2 linked regions of the Homo sapiens genome follow. The protein of the gene in region 2 interacts with the protein of the main gene of each other region in a pairwise test. Each region holds a gene or a part of one and is shown on either strand. Other genes may lie near its edges. The genes, in order: BTK and TLR8.

Region 1 (3,448 bases), about 88 Mb from region 2:
GATGGAGTCTCGCTCTGTTGCCCAGGCTAGAGTGCAATGGCACCATCTCGGCTCACTGCAAACTCCGCCTCCCAGATTCAAGCAATTCTCCTGCCTCAGCCTCCCAAGTAGCTGGGATCACAGGCGCCCAACACCACGCCCAGCTAATTTTTGTATTTTTAGTAGATGGGGTATCGCCATGTTGGCCAGGCTGGTCTTGAACTCTTGACCTCAGGTGATCCACCCACCTCGGCCTCCCAAAGTGTTGGGATTACAGGCGTGAGCCACTGCACCCAGCCTCTCCCTTAATTCTTTCAGCATATCAGTGAGGGAATGGGGTGGTGTGGAATTGCCCATGAGAATGCAATCGTTCTGTATGTCCTCAGTGCTTTACCTAGGACTACACAGCAGGTTGCTTTCCACGTGGTGGAAATGAATCAAAATTTCTTGGTGGCATCAACAGATTCCTATTAGGTGGGAAGGTGTCTGTAGTCGAAGGAGATGAAGCTTCCCTGGCTTCATTCTACTGGTCAGCAGAAGCTTTGTGCCTTTAACCTCTGTGCTGGGGACGGAGTCTCACTGGTCTCTGTTTGCACTACAGGCAGCTCGAAACTGTTTGGTAAACGATCAAGGAGTTGTTAAAGTATCTGATTTCGGCCTGTCCAGGTGAGTGTGGCTTTTTCATCTTTCCCTCCAGAAGTAAAAATAGCACAGTATGAAACATGGGTAGGTGTTACAGTTTTAATCCTCTCCTTTTCTTTTTTTTCTCATTCTAGCGTTTTCTGCCGATCTTTCTATTCTTTTTCTTCCTCTGAGTTATTTAAGCCACCTCTTTCATCCTTTTGTTTTATTGTCATATCCCTTTCCTTCCTTTCTCCCTTTATCTCTACCTCCTCTTTTTTAAATCTATTTCCCCAATACCTTATCTTGATCTATTAATCCTGATGACTTTACTCCATTCCTCCTTCTTTCTTAATCAGTCTAATTCCCAGTGACAACTGCAGATAAAAGGAAGGGAAGGAGAAGAGCAGAGAAAGGAAAGGTGGATAGAGAAGAGGAAGGGAGTACCTACTAGATCTTATTTCACTTCATCCTTCTTGTAACCATATTGTCAATCAGGAAAGCTCAATCAGATACAAAAACAGGAAATTCGTTAAAAGTAACGTTTGTAGAAGATACTAGTTGAGGAGGAGAGACTTTTGAGAAAGCCTGTGTGTGTTTGTGACACTCTTGTGACCGTGCCAAGAAAACGTAAGCAAATATCAAGCCTCCAAATCCTAATGCAACAAGTCCTGAATCCCTTGCAGGTATGTCCTGGATGATGAATACACAAGCTCAGTAGGCTCCAAATTTCCAGTCCGGTGGTCCCCACCGGAAGTCCTGATGTATAGCAAGTTCAGCAGCAAATCTGACATTTGGGCTTTTGGTAAGTGGATAAGATTACACAGATTATACAGCTCAAAGGATAAGAAATGCAATGGGAAAATTCACACTTTGCAACCTCCACAGAGATATTGTTCTTGCTTTCATTCTTCCAATCCTTGGGGAGTGCTTACTGTGTGTCAGCCACCACAGGGGTTTCTGAGGATGAAAACTAAACTGGACATGATCTCTGCCTTTTTAGAACTTAAACCATGTTAAGGAAAACAATTCATTCAGTTTTCAACAGCTTCTGAATACTGATTATGTACCAGGCACTCTGCCAGACCCTATAACTGCAAAGACAAATAAGATGCTGTCTCTCTTCTAGAGGAGTTAATAGTCTAGTACGACCTTGATCTCCATCTAGTGTGGTCAGTACTATAGCAGAAATTTGGGCAAAATATAAAAAGCACAGAGCGGGGAACCAACTGATTCTAATCTTTGAGGTTGATCTAGGAAGACTAGGACCCCTGCTATCCAAAAAGACTGCAAACCAATTTAATAATTTTTTTCACCTTCTAGGGGTTTTGATGTGGGAAATTTACTCCCTGGGGAAGATGCCATATGAGAGATTTACTAACAGTGAGACTGCTGAACACATTGCCCAAGGCCTACGTCTCTACAGGCCTCATCTGGCTTCAGAGAAGGTATATACCATCATGTACAGTTGCTGGCATGAGGTAAGTGCTTTATTAGGATCTCTTAAATTATTTCCTTGAATCTACTTGCCCATTTAGCTGGCCATTCAGCCACCAAAGACTGATAGCTGCACACATTCTTTTTTTTCCTTTTTTTTTTTTTTTAATTTGAGACAAGGTCTCGCTCTTTCACCCAGGTTGGAGTACAGTGGCGCGATCTTGGCTTACTGCAACCTTCGCCTCCCAGATTCAAGCGATTCTCATGTCTCAGCCTCCCAAGTAGCTGGGATTATAGGCGTGCACCACCACACCAAGCTAATTTTTTTTTTTTTTTTTGGTGACACAGTCTTGCTCTGTCACCCAGGCTGGAGTGCAGTGGCACGATTTTGGCTCACTGCAACCTCTGCCTCCTGGGTTCAAGTGATTCTCCTGCCTTAGCCTCCCGAGTAGCTGGGACTACAGGCACATGCCACCGTGCCCAGCTAATTTTTGCATTTTTAGTAGAGACAGCATTTCACCATGTTGGCCAGGCAGGTCTTGAACTCCTGACCTCAGGTGATCCACCCACCTCGGCCTCCCAAAGTGCTGGGATTACAGGCGTGAGCCACTGAGCCTGGCCAATTTTGTATTTTTAGTAGAGATGGCATTTCGCCATGTTGACCAGGCTGATCTCGAACTCCTGGCCTCAAGTGATCCGCCCACCTCGGCCTCCCAAAGTGCTGGGATTAGAGGCATCAACCACCACGCCAGGCCTTGCACACATTCTCTGACCTTGGCCTGCAACTTGATCATCTGATGGCCAGAGGCTTTCCCAGGCCCACTCCGATTCTCACTAGAGTGTCATTAGTACACTCCAATGCCAGCTCAGCTTTAGGGAGTGAGGTGTTGTGGGGCCATGTCATCTAGCATAAGCAGGCAGCCAGAGGCATTCAGACAAGTGAATGGGCATTACAAAAGAAAAGTCATGAAAGTTTGTTCATTCCTTTGTGTGTCATTGGCCCTTTCTTCTACTTTATTAGCTGCCAACCGTTTCTGGCTGAGGTCCTAAATGAGATTTTTTTTTTTTTTTTTTTGAGACCGAGTCTTTCTCTGTCGCCCAGGCTGGAGTGCAGTGGCGTGATCTCGGCTCACCGCAAGCCCCGCCTCCTGGGTTCACAGCATTCTCCTGCCTCAGCCTCTCGAGTAGCTGGGACTACAGGGGCCCGCCACCACGCCCGGCTAATTTTTTGTATTTTTAGTAGAGACAGGGTTTCACCGTGTTAGCCAAGATGGTCTCGATCTCCTGACCTTGTGATCCACCCGCCTCTGCCTCCCAAAGTGCTGGGATTACAGGCATGAGCCACAGCGCCCGGCTAAATGAGATTTTTTTTAAAACCTACTGCTTGAAAGGGAACTAAAACAGGTAGTGG
Region 2 (3,827 bases):
AGGTGTGAGATACCACACCCATCTGATCTTGCTTTTAGATATTTGTCCCTATACCTCAACAAGCACAAGCATAAACATCTTTGTATAAACTCTTCATGGTCACAAAACAGCATGCAATGTGACAAAATTAAATTGTCCTTGGCAAACTTGCACTGCTTTCCACTTTGTGCGTATTAAATAACACTATGACACATTATTTTGGTCAGTTTCTTAGAAGCACATATTAAAAGGTAACTCATGCTGTAAGATTTAACTAAAAAGGAAAGATGGTATATTGGAGGTTTATCTTCTTTTCATTCTGAAGCAACTTCCTTTTCTTATGCTTGGATAATTTCTAGTTATTCTCAGGTAAATTTCATTAGATATCTCAAGATTCATACTGGATAGAGGATGCTATGGACTGATGCAGAGGAACCAAGGGGACAGTAGAAGTGGAAAGGGTTGCCAAAGTTGTTTCATTTGGGGGAATTGCACAAAGGCTACCAACAGCCAGGCATTCTGACTTTATGTCTTCTGAGTAGGGAATCAAGATAGAATTTATCTATTAATAAGTATCTTAAAGTAAAAGTGTCATGAAAACTGCTTCCCCTTTGATTTCTACCAAATAGTTTTTTAAAAAGAGTTCTGAAAAAATTCAGTGTATATGGCAATTTCTTTTATATTAAAGACCAATTTCTCTATGATATATTTATCATACACTCCTCTTGTAAAATGAAACATTTTTATTCATTCATTTTAAGATTTACAGCAATGGCAATTAACAATATAGACCAAAAGCTTCGAATTTAGCTGCATACTTTTAAAAAATGGTAAGAAGTAAAAGATGCTTTAAAAGCTATCCATCTCAGTTCTTAAATGGCATCTAAACCTTAGAAGTCAAATGTTACAGCAAATATTTGTAAAAGCAACTGTAAATAAAACCGAACGCAACCACAGCATAATATAACCATGTAGCCATAGATATATGATAAATATAAACAACAGCTTAATATTAGGACCATTAGTCACAGTGGCAAAAGTTCTTAGATATTGAAAAGAAGATGTGTTAGGTCAACTGCTAAGATGGTCCACAGTGATCCCTGCCTCCTGATATTCACAATCTATCATCAAGATAGCAGGCCATCCCAGGACAGCAGTCAAGGGAAAATAGTTGATGACCAACTGAAGCAATCAGAGCTCACCATCTTGGTCTTCAGCTGTTTTCCCTGGACTGAGGTGGTCACTCCCATGGAGCTGGTGGGACCTGTGGTTTACTTCTAACAAATAGAATATGGCCAAAGTGATGAGATATCACTTTTTTGATTCGATTACAAAAGATTGTGACTTCATCTTGCTAGCAACCTCTCTTTTTTGCTAGCTCTGATGAAGCAAGCTGCCTTGTGGGAGAGGCTCGCATGGCTTACATGAGTATAGCCTTTGGCCAATAGCCCAGGAGGAATTGAATCCAGAAAACAACCACATGAGTGTGACCCCAGTGATGCCTATGTCTCTGGTGAACACCTACATTGCAGCCTCTGAGACACCCTGAGCAGAGGACCCAGTTATGCTGGGCCTGGACTCCTGACCCTCAAAAACTGTGGGCCAGCAAATGTGTTGTTTTAAACCACTAAGTTTTGGGATAATTTGTTACATAGCAATAGATAACTAATACAGAAATGTCATTCCTTTGCATCTTTATTATGGCGCGAAATCATGACTTAACGTCAGTTAGTATTGCTTAATGGAATCGACATACATATTGTTATACCGTGAATCATTTTCAGTCAAGACCACATTTCTCAGAGTTTGCCAAAACAAGCCTTCTGCCTTCGGGTTGTCAGGCCACTGGAGGATGGAGCTCTTACAGATCCGCTGCCGTAGCCTCAAATACTGAGAATGCTGTAACACTGGCTCCAGCAGGATAAATATAATCACATCCATGTTCTCATCCATTAGCCTCTGCAAAGCCAAGTAAAAAGCTGTTTTAAAGTTCCAGCTTTTTGCATATTTTTTGGTTAAAACAAATACTGTTTTCTTGCTTTGGTTGATGCTCTGCATGAGGTTGTCGATGATGGCCAATCCCGGGTCCCAATCCCTCTCCTCTAGACAAAGGAGAACGTTTTTGTCTCGGCTCTCTTCAAGGTGGTAGCGCAGCTCATTTATCACCCAGTCAGTAACAGAGGCATCTTTGGTGTCATAAGAAATGTAAGCATCATAGAAAGTTTGGGATGTGGAAAGAGACCTGTAGCCTTTTACCTTAGCTAAACACACATTATATATAAACCAAACATCCCAGTAAAACAAATGGTGAGCCAGGGCAGCCAACATAACCATGGTGGTGATAAAGAACGTGAAGAAAAATAATATCACTGCAGTGACATCTGAAACACAAGTTGTTAGCTCCAGACTCACAATACTCTTCCCTCTTTGATCCCCAGGACTGGCACAAATGACATCTACCAGTCTGGGAATTTTGACATTCAGATGTTCATCCATCCATCTTCGGAAATCTCCAATGTCACAGGTGCATTCAAAGGGGTTTCCGTGTAGTTCCAACATAGATAATTTGGTGGTGGTCTTAGTTTCAAGTGCGGATTTGTTGATTGTTTTTAGCAGATTGGAACTTAAATCGAGGTGCTTCAGACTACTGACTTCAGAAAGAAAGCCAGAGGGTAGGTGGGAAATCCTGTTATGACTCAGCAGCAGTGTCCGAAGGGAAGATGTAAAGTCAGATAGGCTATCAGTTAAAAAGAGTAGTTTGTTTCCACGTAAGTCAAGCAACTCGAGACGAGGAAACTGCTGGAGTAATGTCCAGTTAAAAAACTTTAACATATTATCATTTATATGTAGTTCAGTGAGACTCGCTGGCAAATTAAGGAATGCTTCATTTGGGATGTGCTTCAGCCTATTAAGGGATAAATCCAGACGTGTCAGATTCTTGAGACCTTTGAAAATGGAGATATACCTGTTGTCATCATCATTCCACAAAATGTCAAGGCGATTGCCACTGAAAACTAATTCTACCAGGGACTTGCTTTCCAGGTTATACTTATCTGTTAAAGTATAAATGTTGTTGTGGCTCAAGTTTAAAACTTTTAGATTTGTGAAATTTTGAATAAATTCTAGATGATGTGTTACGCCTGCTATTCTGAAATAGTGTGAATTATAGCTGAGATCTAGAACTTCCAAGTCGGACAATTCAGTAAGAGCACTAGCATTATCAAAGTCTAGTCTATTGTTTGTCAAATCCAAATATTTGACATGAGGAATGGCTGAAAATTCAGTTCCACTTAACACTTGAGCATTGCTATTTGCAGACAGATTTAAACAGGCAATGTCAGGAAGATTTTCAAATTGGTTTGGCCCAATGAAGAAAATACTGTTGAGGCTTAAATCTAAGGCTTTTCCATAAGCAGCACATTGTGGCTTTATTAAAGGACGGGTGAAATGATAAAAGTTCGAATGTGGGTCAAACTCAAAATCTGTTGAGCGTCGTTTCCGGATATGACGTTGAAAAGAGGAACTATTTGCATAACTCTGCCGGGTATCTTTTACCAACGGTGATATTCTGTTTTCTGACAAGTAAATAATTTCCAGATTGGAGAAATTTTGGAAAAGTTTGAAATCGATTTGCTTAATAAAATTAATACCCAAGTTGATAGTCGATAAGTTTGGAAGCTGCATCAGGGGCTGGAAATCATCTTCTCTGAGTTCCTGGAACACATAACCTCTTAAATGCAATGCCCGTAGAGACAAAAGTTTAGAGAAGTTTCTGGAAATATTAATATGCTGTGGATAACTCCCCTTTATATAGTTAAAAGACAAGTCAAGTATTTCTAAGCGGGGCA

Evidence for each region.
Region 1: the proteins of TLR8 (region 2) and BTK interact in a two-hybrid assay, tested with the Homo sapiens proteins (one study listed by BioGRID).

What each region holds. Positions count from the first base shown.
Region 1 is NC_000023.11:101,351,827-101,355,274, reverse strand, and holds part of BTK (tyrosine-protein kinase BTK), read left to right. Parts: intron 1-580; coding exon 581-645; intron 646-1,286; coding exon 1,287-1,405; intron 1,406-1,923; coding exon 1,924-2,081; intron 2,082-3,448. UniProt on the Homo sapiens protein: Non-receptor tyrosine kinase indispensable for B lymphocyte development, differentiation and signaling. Binding of antigen to the B-cell antigen receptor (BCR) triggers signaling that ultimately leads to B-cell activation.
Region 2 is NC_000023.11:12,920,047-12,923,873, reverse strand, and holds the end of TLR8 (toll-like receptor 8 isoform 2 precursor), read right to left. Parts: coding exon 1,708-3,827; 3' UTR 705-1,707; downstream 1-704.